2 linked regions of the Homo sapiens genome follow. The protein of the gene in region 1 binds, or shares a complex with, the protein of each later gene. Each region holds a gene or a part of one and is shown in the gene's direction. Other genes may lie near its edges. The genes, in order: SPG7 and VDAC1.

Evidence for each region.
Region 2: SPG7 (region 1) and VDAC1 share a complex: the UniProt entries of both Homo sapiens proteins name them as parts of the mitochondrial permeability transition pore complex.

The regions. Positions count from the first base shown.
Region 1 is NC_000016.10:89,503,308-89,511,402, forward strand, and holds the start of SPG7 (mitochondrial inner membrane m-AAA protease component paraplegin isoform 1 precursor), read left to right. Parts: upstream 1-5,095; 5' UTR 5,096-5,110; coding exon 5,111-5,293; intron 5,294-7,182; coding exon 7,183-7,285; intron 7,286-8,095. UniProt on the Homo sapiens protein: Catalytic component of the m-AAA protease, a protease that plays a key role in proteostasis of inner mitochondrial membrane proteins, and which is essential for axonal and neuron development.
Region 2 is NC_000005.10:133,973,733-133,980,997, reverse strand, and holds part of VDAC1 (non-selective voltage-gated ion channel VDAC1), read left to right. Parts: exon of another isoform or gene 1-41; coding exon 42-269; intron 270-4,976; coding exon 4,977-5,127; intron 5,128-7,149; coding exon 7,150-7,207; intron 7,208-7,265. UniProt on the Homo sapiens protein: Non-selective voltage-gated ion channel that mediates the transport of anions and cations through the mitochondrion outer membrane and plasma membrane.

The DNA.
Region 1 (8,095 bases):
TTTTATAGAGACGGGGTTTCTCCATGTTGGTCAGGCTGGTCTCAATCTCCAGACCTCAGGTGATCCGCCCACCCTTTTTTTTTTTTTTGAGGTGGAGTCTCACTCTGTCGCGCAGGCTGGAGTGCAGTGACGCGATGCGATCTCGGCCCACTTCAACCAACACCTCCTGGGTTCAAGCGATTCTCCTGCCTCAGCCTCCCAAGTAGCTGGGGTTACAGGCGCCTGCCACCACACCCAGCTAATTTTCGTATTTTTAGTAGAGAGGAGGTTTCACCATGTTGGCCAGGATAGTCTCCCAACTCCTGACCTCAGATGATCCACCCACCCTCGGCCTCCCAGAGTGCTGGGATTACAGGCGTGAGCCACGGTGCCCAGCATTTTTTTTTTTTTTTTTTTTTTTTTTTTTGAGACGGAGTCTCACTCTGTTGCCCAGGCTGGAGTGCAGTGGCGCGACCTCGGCTCACCACAACCGCCACCTCCCGGGTTCAAGCGATTCTCCTGCCTCAGTCTCCCTCCTGAGTAGCTGGGATTACAGGCGCCTGCCACCACACCCAGCTAATTTTCGTATTTTTAGTAGAGATGAGGTTTCACCATGTTGGCCAGGCCGGTCTCCAACTCCTGACCTCAGGTAATCCAGATCCAACCACCTCGGCCTCCGAAAGTGCTGGGATTACAGGCGTGAGCCACCACGCCCAGCCCCATCTTTTAAAGAAGAATAAAATCTGGTTCTACATGGATGAGTAAAGCCCAGTTAACAAGTGATATAAGAAGAAACTGTTTCCTAAGAAAGAGCTTCAGGAAGAAAATGTACTAAAATTTACAGAGATGAACTCGTTTATTTTCAAGCATTCCACAAGGTAACATGTTTTATGTAAGACATCCTCATATTCAACACATACCTTATTGTTCTGCCTGACTTTGCTTCAGCAGGAGGAGTCGCCGTGGGGGCGGCTTTGGCCATCATTATGGGTGCTGCAGTCCAAGAGCTCTGGAGGCCAGGCTAACTGCAAAAGCAAATGTACTTAAAAAAATTTTTAAGTTTAGTTGCTGCCAAATTTGGAAAGAAGCAAATATGTAATTATTTGTTCAGATATTAATAAGGAAGCCTAGATTTTTTTTTTTTTTTTTTTGAGACAGTCTTGGCCTGGCGCGATGGCTCATGCCTGTCATCCCAGCTACTCGAGAGGCTAAGGCAGGAGAATCGCTTGAAGCTGGGAGGCAGAGGCTGCAGTGAGCTGAGATCGCACCACTGTACTTCAGCCTGGGCAACAGAGTGAGACCTTGTCTCATAAAAAAAAAGACAGGGTCTCACTCATCACTGAGGCTGGAGTGCAGTGGCAAGATCTTAACTCACTGCAGCCTCCACCTCCCAGGTTCAAGCGATTCTCATGCCTCAGCCTCTCGAGTAGCTGGAACTACAGGCATGTTGCCACCGTGCCTGGCTAATTTTTTTGTATTTTTAGTAGAAAGAGAGTTTCGCCGTGTTGGCTAGGCTGGTCTTGAACTCCTGACCTCAAGTGATCCACCTGCCTTGCCCTCCCAAAGTGCTGGGATTACAGGCGTGGGACATAGCACCCAGCCAGAAGCCTAGATCTTTTTTTTTTTTTTTCAGATGGAGTCTCTGCCTCCCAGATTCAATCGATTCTCCTGCCTCAGCCTCCCAAGTAGCTGGGATTACAGGCACCTGCCACCGTGCCCGGCTAATTTTTTCTATTTTTAGTAGAGACTGGGTTTTACCATGTTAGCCAGGATGGTCTCATCTCCTGATGATCTCGTGATCCACCGGTCTCGGCCTCTCAAAGTGCTGGGATTACAGGCATGAGCCACCGCCCCAGCCAGCCTAGATCTTAAAATCAAAAAAAGTCCCAAAGATCAACTTCTGTCTCTGGAATGTTAAACGTTACTGTTTGATAGATGAGGCAACTGAAGTTTGTAGAGCACCTTGCCTGAAGCTTCAGCCCACAGCAGGAATAAGGGACAGAGCCTAGAATGCTTCTGCATCAACAGGGAACAAAGGCATGGGGTCTCCTCTCTGTCCACCTTCCCTTCCCACAGCCCAGGCTGAAAGGGCTGCCCTAGGCGCTCCTGAGGCCTCCTCTCTTATGGGGCTAGAGCTGAGGGAACCTGGGGTTGGTAGCCATCCAGAGACCTAAGGCGTGCCCTGACCCAAACCAGGAGTCACCAAGAGACTGCCTCTAGAGAATAGGCGGGGAAGGGAAGTCACACCAAGTCCAAGCGCAGAGTTCAGAGGGCTGAGGAGGGGTGACGCGGAAGTACAAATGAGTAAGCAGCAGTTAGGAAGTGTGCCAAGTCCTGACGTGCAGAGTTCAGAGGGCTGAGGAGGGGTGACACGGAAGCACAAATGAGCAAGCAGCAGTTAGGCAGTGCAGGAAGAACACACAGGCGGAGAAGGGAAAGCGAACGTCCTGCTCTGCTGCAGGCTATGAGGGCAAAGGCAGACCCGGGAGCCCACTGTCCTACAGATCCTTCTTCTTGAATCCAAATCATGCAGCAAAATAAAAACAAAACCCCCAAACCATGGGGCACCCGAATCCTTAAACAAAACCCCTACTGCTTGAGGCTACGTGAGCCTCTGCTGCTGCCGCCACTACAGCAGGGGCTGAAGCTGAGAGCTGAGAGTCACGGTTCACCTGTAGGGCCTGGGATGCAGCCAGCCTTCAAAGCACGGTTGTTAGAGATGAGTTTGAATAAATGCATAAATACTCTGTTCCCATATCCTCATTTCCCATGACGTCCCAGTAATAACTCTGGATGCCAAGGCTTCCTGGCTCGTCAGTTGCCCTCACACACATTTATTGCATTTTATCTTCATAACCACCCTGTGGGAAACCCAAGGCTGATATTAGCCTTGCTTTGCAGATAATTATCATCCCCATTTTACCGCTGAGAAGATTGAGGCTTGAGGAAGCTAATAACTTGCTTAAGGTCATAGGCCAGAGGAGACAGAACCCAGTGTTCTTTCCCCAGAGGAGGCCTCTTGCCAACACCCCACACTGCTTCTGATGAATTGCCAGGAAACAATTTTAACTTATCTCAAACAATATTAATAGGACTACACTTAAACTCCTCCCAAACACATCCAAATGTGTGCCCTCACCCTCTCTCCAGCCTTGTCCCGTGACCAACCCAACCAAACTTCCGAAAGGGTTTTTTGTGTTCTAGGAAGTGACCGAGCCCCACAACCCTTTATGCCTGTGCGTTCAGAGGATTTGTGACCTTTTTTTTTTTTTTTGAGATGGAGTCTCGCTCTGTCGCCCAGGCTGGAGTGCAGTGGCGGGATCTCGGCTCACTGCAAGCTCCGCCTCCCGGGTTCACGCCATTCTCCTGCCTCAGCCTCCCGAGTAGCTGGGACTACAGGCGCCCGCCACAGCGCCCGGCTAATTTTTCGTATTTTTAGTAGAGACGGGGTTTCGCCGTGTTAGCCAGGATGGTCTCGATCTCCTGACCTCGTGGTCCGCCCGCCTTGGCCTCCCAAAGTGCTGGGATGAAGGGCAGGGAGAGGGAGGGGGAGGGCACCGCGCCCGGCCCACCTGGTGTCTTTCAATCAGGGAAAGAAAAAATAGTGGAGGAGGAAACGGCAAGGTTGGATTCACTGCGAAGGCTGACTGTACAATAAGAAGCAAAAGGAAAAGCGGTTCAGTTGTGAAAATCAGTGTCAGCCCTGGGTGTAGGGGAAGGTCCTCTCCACAAACCAACAGAACACCTCCCCAGCCCCGAGCACCTCTGCCGAGGCACCCGGCCCACTGGAGGGCTGAGGGCGGATAACCACGATAACTGAAAACACTTTCCTGAGCGTCTCGGGGCTGAGGAAGAGGGAGGATTACACGCAGCCCACTGGCTTTGCAACCTCGTCTGTAGTGGTGGAGTGAGTGCAGGTCCAGAAACAAACCAGACCGGCCTTGAAATTCTGCCCTAACTTCAGAGCTGTAATCCTAGGCAGGTTACTTTTAATACTTCTGAATCTTTCTTTACATGTAAAATAGAGGTATTGTATTCGCTGCACAGGGTTGTGAATATTACATGGGTGTTCGACACGGAGCTAGGCACTCGGTGATGTTGGCTGTCGTCACTGGCATTCACTGTTACGAATTTGCGGAGTACAGAAAAGCATAAAAATAAATAGGTCACCCTCATCCTACCTCTGTGACAGACCATCTAGTCTTTGCTTTTCCTACTCAACAAGCTTTCCAGCTCTTGGCGTCAGCTCTAGACCTAAGGCGGACGGAGGAAGGGGTCGGGGTGGCGGAGGACCCCGCGCGCCTGGGAGCCCACGAGGGACCCTGCCCGGGCCCGGAGGGCGGACCCTGAAGAGAACAGAGCCTCTTCCTAAGCTTCCAGACGGCGCCTCCCCGCTTCCTACGATGGGCTCGCGCAGCGGCCGGGGCAGGACCGAGGCTCGAAGCGCCTCCGAGGTGAGCCAGTCCGAAGGCACAGGACGGAGCGCTCCGAAGTCAGAGGTGTGCGGGACGAGCTCTGCAGACGCCTGCCAGGCCGCGCCGCACTGCGCGCTCCCTCCCTCACGACCCTCCTCCTCCGGGGCTGCCCTCCCTGCGGCGGCTGCAACTTCAGTCCTCGTCCTCGGGCGGCTCAAGACGCAGGAAAACCGCCCCCTTCCTGCGCTCCTCACACCCGAAGGGGCCCTCCCGACCCGAGGCCTCCGGCGCCGCCCTCCTGAGCGCGGGCCTCTACTCGCAGGCGGGATTCCGGCCCGCACCATCCGCCCTCGCCTGTGACCGAACCCTGCGGGTGACGCAGGCTGCCCGGGCGTGAGGCCCCTCGGCGCGGGCGGAGCACGACCACGCAGCCACGACCCGGCCGGTTATTCACCCGCCAGGCCCTGGGAATACAAGGCCGGCTTCAAAAAAACCAGGGCACCCGCGACCTCCTCGCAGACGCGCGCCCCCATACCCGGGCCTCAGGCAGCCACGAGGTAGACGGGCTCAGGCTCGGGGGTGCGGCAAGCGGCACCCGGGCGCGGCGGGGCGCAGCTGTGGGGACCGCGCAGGCGCCACGTCAGACCCCGCCCACCCCGCCGCGCAGGCGCCGTGTAGCGCCCCGCGGATCACGCAGGCGCGGCTTTCAGGCCAACATGGCCGTGCTGCTGCTGCTGCTCCGTGCCCTCCGCCGGGGTCCAGGCCCGGGTCCTCGGCCGCTGTGGGGCCCAGGCCCGGCCTGGAGTCCAGGGTTCCCCGCCAGGCCCGGGAGGGGGCGGCCGTACATGGCCAGCAGGCCTCCGGGGGACCTCGCCGAGGCTGGAGGCCGAGCTCTGCAGGTAAATCCCCGCGGAGTCCGGGCCCCACCTCCCGCCCGGCTCTGCTCTGTAAGGCCCAGCCCGGCGGGGCGGGTCGGAGGCCGCCTGGCCCCTGCGGCGGGGGAGCCTGCGCCTGTGGGCCCGCGGATCCCCCAGCTGTGGACCTCGGCGCGGAGCGACTGTTGGGGCCCTGGATCGTGGGCGCTGGGCGGGCCGGGAAGAGGCAGGGCTGGGATCCGCGCAGTCCTCGGCGTGGACTTTCCCAACCCGTCTGTTGTGTGTGGATGTTCTCCGCCCGTCTTCCTCGCCTTTTAAAGTGGAATCCAGTAACGGTTTCCGGCGTAGCACTAATTTACAGTCCACGCCTGTGGATCGATTCCGTCACCAGGAATTCCAGCGCCTTCCAGTTAGGGTGGTTATTGCCGAGTAGGGGGCCCAGAACGTTTCTGTGTCCGCAAAATACCCTGTAGCTGCATTTTGCTGTTGTCATGTAGCTCGGCACGTTATTGATACAGTCATTGAGCACCCCCTGTAGTGCGGCCTTGTTTCAGGTTCTGCTAAGGATAGGATAGCATCTCCTCCCGAAAACCAGACCTTGTGTCCTTCAGCTTTTGGGCTGATGTTTTTTTCTCCTAGCCCTCGCCTAGGAGCTTAGCCCACACCTTTTAGGTTGTTGTTTTTTCGGTTATTTTTGAGACAGAGATCTCGCTCTGTCGCCCAGGCTGGAGTGCAATGGTCTTGGCTCACTGCAACCTCCGCCTCCCGGGTTCAAGCGATTCTCCTGCCTCAGCCTCCTGAGTAGCTGGGATTACGGGTGCGCGCCACCACACCCAGCTAATTTTTGTATTTTTAGTAGAGACGGGGTTTCACCATGTTGGCCAGGATGGTCTCCATCTCTTGACCTTGTGATCCGCCTGCCTCGGCCTCCCAAAGTGCTGGGATTACAGGGCGTGAGCCACCGCGCCCGGCCATAAAACATATTTAAATGGGAAAATGTTTATCTTGAAAGGAGAACTCTGAAAGTATATACTTGTTAACTGGTTTGGTACCTGGAAATGTTCTACAAGGAGCCACTCTCTGGTGACAGCAGGAGCCCCGTGTCTGGGCAGCCACTGTGGCCTTTGGAGAGCTGGGCTGCTCCCTTTCTCCTGCAGAAGCTTCAGGCCATGGGATAGCAGCCAATGTACTTCTGTGTTTTGTTTTCTTCTTTTTTTTTTTTTTTTTTTTTTGTGACAATCTCGCTGTGTCGCCCAGGCTGGAGTGCAGTGGCCTGATCATGGCTCCCTGAAGCCTCTGCCTCCTGGGCCCAAGCAATCCTCCCACCTCAGCCTCCCAAAGTGCTGGGATTACAGACATGAGCCACCGTGCCTGGCCACTATCGTGATTTTTTGTTTGTTTATTTGTTTGTTTTTTGAGATGGAGTTTCCCTTTGTTGCCCAGCCTGGAGTGCAGTGGTGCTATCTCGGCTTACTGCAACCTCTGCCTCCCGGGTTCAAGCGATTCTCCTGCCTCAGCTTCCTGAGTAGCTGAGATTACAGGTGTGCACCACCACGCCCGGCTAATTTTTGTATTTTTAGTAGAGATGAGGTTTCACCATGTTGGCCAGGCTGGTCTCAAACTCCTGACTTCATGTGATCCACCCGCCTCAGCCTCCCAAAGTGTTGGGATTACAGCCGTGAGCCACCACGCCTGGCCAATTACTGTGTTTTAACCTGTTTACTTGCTTTTGACATTTTGATGTTACCTAAAGCTTTGACCTATTGCTCAGACTATTACTTTATATTTCAGGGCAATGTAGATATTACAAATAATTATATATTTGAACTTTTAAAAACGATTTTTAGTCTGCATTGCTTTGGTACTCTCTAATGTTGGTGTGACCTCCAGTATTGTTTTTTTTTTTTTTTCAGAGCTTACAATTGAGACTGCTAACCCCTACCTTTGAAGGGATCAACGGATTGTTGTTGAAACAACATTTAGTTCAGAATCCAGTCAGACTCTGGCAACTTTTAGGTATGTATCTGTTTAAAGAAGCAGCTGAGCATGACTGCACACTTACCGCCTCAGCTACTTGGGAGGCTGATCTTTTTTTATTTTAGAGACGGGATCTCGCCCTGTTGCACGGGCTGGAGTGCAGTACAATGGTGTGATCAGAGCTCACTACAGCCTAGAACTCCTGGGCTCAAGGGATCCTCCCCACTTTGCTTCCGGAGTAGCTAGGACTACAGGCGTGTACCGTCACACTCGGCTAATTGTTTTTTGTAGAGACAAGGTCTCACTTTGTTGTCCAGGCCCAAAGGGGCCTCTTTACTCCCTTATCCCCCAGTTGCAGAGCCTTGACCTCTTAGGCTGGAGTGATCCTCCCACCTCAGCCTTCCATAGAGCCAGGACTCCAGGCACACACCAAAGCGCCTAGCTAATTTTTGGGGGGTATTTTTTGTGGAGATGGGGTTTTGCCACGTTTCCCAGGCTGGTCTTAAACTCCTGGACTCAAGCGATCAGCCTGCCTTGGCCTCCCAAAGTGTTGAGATCACAGGCATGAGCCACCGCATCTGGCCAAGTTGTCCTTTTTTAAAAAAAATTCTGCTGTATTCCAGTAATTGGGCTGCTTGAAAAAGGTTTTTCGTGTTATCTAGTCAGCTGCAAGAATGTTTAGTAAGGATTTACAAAGTGGCTACAGATGTTTTATATCCACACAATCACTAAAAATACCCTGCAAATAATTTGCTCTTCAATAAATCATTTAATGAAACCTTGTGACATTCTTTGGTCTCTCTTGGCTTTAGGTTAAAGAACCTGAAGGATTGACACCTCTCACTTTTA
Region 2 (7,265 bases), on another chromosome or scaffold:
TGAGTTAGCTTCTGATCTTAATATAACTTATTTTCCTTCAGGAAAAAAAATGCTAAAATCAAGACAGGGTACAAGCGGGAGCACATTAACCTGGGCTGCGACATGGATTTCGACATTGCTGGGCCTTCCATCCGGGGTGCTCTGGTGCTAGGTTACGAGGGCTGGCTGGCCGGCTACCAGATGAATTTTGAGACTGCAAAATCCCGAGTGACCCAGAGCAACTTTGCAGTTGGCTACAAGACTGATGAATTCCAGCTTCACACTAATGTGTAAGTGTACATGGGGGCAGCAGGGTGGGAGGGGTGGGGTTGGAGCATGTGTGGTAAGGGGATTGCTTTTCACTGTTTTTTTTTTTTTTTTTTTAAGAAAGCCCAGTTTTTAACCACTGTAAAGTGAGTTTGTTGGCATTAGATGAGCCACATGGCCTGCTGCTATCTTTTGTTTCCCACCTACCCATTTCCTGGAGTGTCTTAGATCCTTTCCACTCTGTGAACAGTATATATTGCCACAGGTACACAAAGTGGCTGATTAATTACAGCAGGGACATGGTGTCAGTCCAGAGCGTGTCCATTCCCTGCAGTTTTTGTTTTAGTTAACAAAACAGCTCTCTTTCTCTGTCTAATGCCTGAGGATTAGCCTGCTGGGCTTGATGACATGTAGACATGGTAGACAAATTTAGGAGCTGATTATCTCAGTTACAAACTATCTTCTCTGTACAGTGAAGCATGTAAAAGTAACTATTGGACAGTATGGTGAAGGGAAACAGTGATTATAGGTTAGGAGAGAGCCCCTTGAGAATTGAAGTAGATTGATGATTTAAGTTAAGGGAAACACATTTCATTCATGAATCTTGTTTTATCCATAAACCTTGTTTTATTTAGTTTCATGAGGAATTAACCTGTGACAGGCACAAGCTGGGTGCAGAGTTACCATGTTTATTTCTTTCCACTAGAGGTCACTAAAGAAGTAACTTCTTAAACTTAAGGCAAATCAGTGATATTAATGTGTAAACTAATATTTCCATTAATAAATTTTTTGAGGAATTTTTATCATTAATTTGGAATCTGTTACAGCTAAAAAGTCACAGGAAAACTATAGAGATGGACAATCTAGTGGTTGGCAGGGGGCGGGGAGGGTATGACTACAAAGCAGTGACTGAGGGAGTTTCGGGGAGGGAACTGTTCTATATTCTGACTGTCGTCATGGTTACATTAATCTGTGTACGTGTGTTAAAATTCGTAAAAATGTATACCAAGAAAATATCCATTTTGGCCGGGCGTCGTGGCTCACGCCTGTAATCCCAGCACTTTGGGAGGCCGAGGCGGGTGGATCACGAGGTCAGAAGTTCAAGACCAGCCTGGTCAAGAAGGTGAAACCCCATCTCTACTAAAAATACAAAAATTAGCTGGGCGTGGTGGCGGGTGCCTGTAATCCCAGCTACTTGGGAGGCTGAAGCAGGAGAATCGCTTGAACCTGGGAGGTGGAGTTTGCAATGAGCCGAGATCACGCCACTGCGCTCTAGCCTGAGCAACAGAGCAAGACTCCGTCTCAAAAAAAAAAAAAAAAAAAAAAAGCAAAGAAAATATCAATTTTATTATATGTTTAATTAAGAAGAGGTGAAACATACTAAAAAGCTATAGGAAACATACCACATGCATAGAAATGTTTTTGAACGTAGAATTCTGATTGGCATGGGAAGTGTTTTCCTTGGTTTGAAATTGGGCATTGGCACCAATTCTTCAGTACCAATTCTAGGAGGAACAATGGCTGTTAGCCATTTCCCCCACATATCTGAGCTTCAGCATTTTAAATAAGCAACAAGTGGGTATGGTTTATTTTTGGAACCAGCGTGAAGGCAGCTGACACAACTCATCTGGGTTGCCCTGGTGCTTGCAGGGGCCCAAATGCATAACAGAAATTCTTTGTGCTTCATATAGATGAATTTGAACAGTTCCACCTGTGTATTTATTTATTTATTATTATTATTTTTTGGTGACAGGGTCTCACTCTCTCACCCAGGCTGGAGTTCAGTGGCACGATCTCTGCAGCCTCCACCTCCCGGGATTAAGTGATACTCCCACCTCAGCCTTGCAAGTAGCTGGGACTACAGGTGCATGCCACCACACCTGGCTAATTTTTGTATTTTTTGTGGAGGCAGGATTTCGCCATGTTGCCCAGGTTGTTCTTGAACTTGTGAGCTCAAGCGATCTGCCCGCCTTGGCCTCCCAAAGTGCTGGGATTACAGGTGTGAGCCACTGCATCTGCCTTCTGTTTATGGTTTTGAAAGCTCTGTACAGGAAGGCAGTATTGTGTTCCTGGTTTTAGGATATTCTGAAAAGTCTGGCCTTTTTTAAAAACATGTAAGCCCAAGAAACTTCCCCATTTGAATATATTACTAAAGTCATTCAAAAATCTTATTTTTGACAGGCTGCTGTTTTATTGTAGCATACTTGGGCTGTCTACAGAAGACAGGATTCTCTGTGAATCAGGCAGTGCCTGGGTCTCCCTGTACTTTCTAGAAGCATAATGTCTGTCTCGCTGAATTTCATGGGGAAACGAAAATTTACAATGTGTGGCTCATACGTGTAATCCTAGCTACTTGGGAGGCTGAGGCGGGAGGATCACTTGAGGCCAGGAGTTTGGGACCAGCCTGGGGAACATAGAAATACTCTGTCTCTAAGAAATTTTTTAAAAATTAGCTGGGCATGGTGGCAACATGCCTGTGATCACTTGAGCCCAGGAGTTTGAGGTTACAGTGAGCTATGATTTTGCCACTGCTCTCCAGCCTGGGAAACAGAGCAAGATCCCATCTTGGGGAAAAAAAAAAAAGAAAATTTAGAATGTATTCTCTGATTTAGGGAGAGTGTCTTGTGAAGACTAGAGTTTTTGTTCTTAGGTCCTGAAGCCCTTTGCTGGATTCCAAAGTACGTGGGCTCTGACTCACAGTTAACCAATGCCATTTCCACTGGAAATGCCCACAATGATGAGGCAGAACTCAGACACTGATTTTATGTTAAAGATGTTTGAGAGGGTCTAGGCAGGCTTGAAGACCATCTGATGCAAGGAGGATGGTCATTCCTTTTTAAAAAATTGCAGCATTAAAATTTTTCTTAATTTTTTTAATCAAAGGAGTCTGAACCCATGGTTGTAAAATCAAACAGTACAGATGGGCCTATGAAAAGCAGTGATTCCAGCCTGCCTCAGCCTGCTCATCCCAGCTCCGCAGTGGCAGCCACTTTAACTGTTTTTGTTTTCTGTGGTTCCCTCCATGGAGAAGGTTGCTTCTGACCAGGCACCAGTATGCACTGTGTGTATAAACAACAATCTGAAAGCAGTAATGAGAGACAGTCTATGATCTGTGCCGACCCCAGCCCGACAGAGGACAAAGTGTAGACTCTGAGCTCTTCGTATGCCTTTTTAGGGGTGGCAGTGACTGCAGAGTTTGTATAGGCTGTTCAGCTGGGTGGGGCAGACTTTCAAATTCTGAGAGCTTAAGCAGGGCCCCAAAAGAGGAAGAGGAGAATTTGAATGACTGAAGAAGGGAAAGGGATATTCCCAGCAACTGGAGTCATTCAGTGTGTTTGTAAGAGAGGAGGGAGCTTGGCCAGCTGGGGTTTCATTCTGAATGTTTTTGAAAGAGGGAGACATTTTATGATGTAGCAAAAAGCTCCCTTTCAAATCCTGCCAGGCTTAGATGTTGCAGCATGGGTGAGGAGTATGCACAGGTGGACGAGATGAATTGTGGATTAAGCTCTTTTGAAGTGCTGCTCCTCCAAGAGGCTGGGTCAGTGCCAACTGTATCTCCCCAGCAGTGGCTGCAGCAGGTTGTGCCAAGGGCTCTAACTTGCCTTCTGAGGCATATGTGCAGCCCCACCTTTCTTGCCATTTCTGGCTGTGTTCTCTTCTCATTTTCTTCTCTTTCCATAACATTTTTTATTTTTACTTTTATTTTTTGAGCCAGAGTCTCACTCTGTCACCCAGACTGGAGTGCAGTGGTGAGATCTCAGCTCACTGCAACCTCTGCCTCCTGGGTTCAGACGATTCTCCTGCCTCACCCCCCCAGGTTGCTGGGATTACAGGCACCTGCCACCATGCCCAGCTAATTTTTATGTTTTTAGTAGAGACAGGGTTTCATCATGTTAGCCAGGCTGGTCTCAAACTCCTGACCTCAAATGATCTGCCCGCCTTGGCCTCCCAAAGTGCTGGGATTATAGGCATGAACCACTGCACCCGGACTTCCATGCCATTTTTCTGGTAGAATCGTTTATAAAAGTAATAACATCAGTAGCAGTAAAAATAAATCACTCAGAATCTCAGTGCTCTACTTGCTGCTTCTTTTTTTTTTTTTTCCTTATAGAGACAGGATCTCGCTCTGTTGCCCAAGCTATATCCTGGGCTCAAGCAGTCCTGCTGCCTCGGCCTCCCAAAATGCTAGGATTACAGGCGTGAGTCACCACGTACCCCCTCTCCCCTGGCTTTTTCTTTTTTTGTTTGAGACAATGTCTTGCTCTGTTGCCCAGGCTGGAGTGCAGTGGCGCGATCTCGGCTTACTGCAACCTCTGCCTCCCAGGTTCAAGCGATTCTCCTGCCTCAGCCTCTTGAGTAGCTGGGATTACAGGCGTATGGCACCAGCCCGGTCAATTTTTGTATTTTTAGTAGAAACAGGGTTTCACCATGTTGGCCAGGCTGGTCTCAAACCCCTGACCTCAAGTGATCTGCCCATCTCGGCCTCCCAAAGTGCTGGGATTACAGGTGTGAGCCACTGTGCCTGGCTAGGTGCCTGTTCCATACTTATCAGACTTCCTGTAATTTAGTACCTGTTTTGTGAAATTTGGTGAACTTCTGACTTCCCTTAATACCAGTATTGGTTCAGTCCATTTCTGTCATCCCTGTCTTCTGGGAGACTTGGGTGGATCTGTCTGGGCTGCAGCTCACCTCCCTGGGAAGCTCAGCATCTGTCCTGTGCTTGTTTGCAGGAATGACGGGACAGAGTTTGGCGGCTCCATTTACCAGAAAGTGAACAAGAAGTTGGAGACCGCTGTCAATCTTGCCTGGACAGCAGGAAACAGTAACACGCGCTTCGGAATAGCAGCCAAGTATCAGATTGACCCTGACGCCTGCTTCTCGGTGGGTATCTGTGGAATCACGCATCTCACAGGCAGGCCCATCTGCTCTTTATGTTGGAATCCTTCAGGTTTGCTGGAGTGCTGTGCTTCAGCTTACTCAAAGTGAGAGATGCTGCTGGGCGCCGTGACTCACGCCTGTAATCCCTGCACTTTGGGAGGCCAAGGCAGGCAGATCACTTGAGGTCAGGAGTCTGACACCAGCCTCGCCAACACGGTGAAACCCTGTCTACTAAAAGTACAAAAATTAGCCGGGCATGGTGGCGTGTGCCTGTAATCCCAGCTACTCGAGAGGCTGAGGCAGGAGAATTGCTTGAACCGGGGAGGCGGAGGTTGCAGTGAGCTGAGATCGTGTCACTGCACTCCAGCCTGGGTGACAGAGTGAGATTCTATCTCAAAAAAAAAAAAAAGACTCCGTCTCAAAAAAACAAAAACAAAGTGAGAGATGTTCTCACTTTGAAAAGAGTGCCAAATGAGTACAGTGATCATACTACTAGTACTTCTTATGGGTACCAGGCACTGTGCAGAGCCTTTTGTGTAGATTACTGTGTTTAATCCCATTTGAAATAGGTGCTTTGGTTTTTTAATCATCTCTGGGTTTTTTTTATTTTTTGTTTTTTTGAGACAAGGCCCAGGTTGGATGCAGTGGTGTAATTGCAGCTCACTGCAGCCTCATCCTCCTGTGCTCAAGTAATCCTGCCACCTCAGCCTCCCAAGTAGCTGGGACTATAGGCACACCAGCATGCCTGGCTAATTAAAAAAAAATTTTTAGTAGAGACAATGTCTCACTCTGTTGCCTGGGCTGGTCTCAAACTCCTGGGCTCAAGCTGTCCTCCCACCTCAACCTCCCAAATGTTGGGATTACAAGGCATGAGCCACCATGCCTGGCCAATCATCTCTGTTTGTTTGTTTTTTTTTTTGAGACGGAGTCTCCCTTTGTTGCCCAGGCTGGAGTGCAATGGCACGATCTCAGCTCACTGCGCAACCTCCGTCCCCCAGGTTCAAGTGATTCTACTGCCTCACCCTCCCATGTAGCTGGGAACACAGGCACCCACCACCACACCTGGATAATTTTTGTGTTTTTAGTATAGACGGGGTTTCACCATGTTGGTCAGGCTGGTCTCGAACTCCTGACCTCAGGTGATCTGCCTGCCTCGGCCTCCCAAAATGCTGGAATTACAGGCATGAGCCATGGCCCCTGGCCAATCATCTCTGTTTTTACAAATGAGGAACTAGAAACTTAGGTGAGTAACTTGCTCAAAGGTACACAGCAGGAAAGTGCTGGGAGCTGGATTTGAACCAGACTGGCTTACTGTTAAGCCTCTTCCATTAATACCAGTTCCTGTTCTATCATGCGGACTGTTAAAAGGGGCACTCTGAAATCTAGGGTTCTAATTGATAATTCCCCCCGCCCCGCCTCACTTTTCATTCTCCTTTTCAGCTCCTGCATTGCATATTAAGAAATCAATAGTCAGTTGGCATCTTGCAGAGTCTCTGGCATTGCTCACAGGCCCTCGAACTACTACACAGTTTTTGCAGTAAATCCTATTGGGCTCATTTCTGTTGTCACAGGGCACTGGCGGCTGTATCTCTTTGGGGTGAAATGAGGGAATCTCATGTTGCAGAATGGTGTCTGTACTGGTTTGTGTAATTTATGGACAGCCCTTTTTAAGTCTCCTAAACTAGAACCGAATTTGGCTCCCTTAACAGCAAGCACTTAAAAACAAGAGAAAAGGAGCCTCATTATTTATATGAGCAAAAGGACACTGGCCCCTAAGAGGCCTTCCTTCTCTCTGCTTTGTTCTTATGAGGGGTGTCAGATCTCAGCACACCCTTTGAACAGAAAGGTATGCACCTAAAATTGATGTATTTTGTATTGAATTTAATGAATCTCATGAACAAGGTGGTCATGAAAAATTTTGATTCTAAAGTCCAAGGTTGGTTGACTAAAAAGCTCTAATTTTGGAGATGGAAGTGCAAAGTATTATACTTAATGTTTTCTCTGTTTTGTCATTTCCTTGATTAGGCTAAAGTGAACAACTCCAGCCTGATAGGTTTAGGATACACTCAGACTCTAAAGCCAGGTATGTGTTGCTTGTGTGTGAAATCGGTTCTTTATCTTAAAAAAATTGTGGTGCTGGT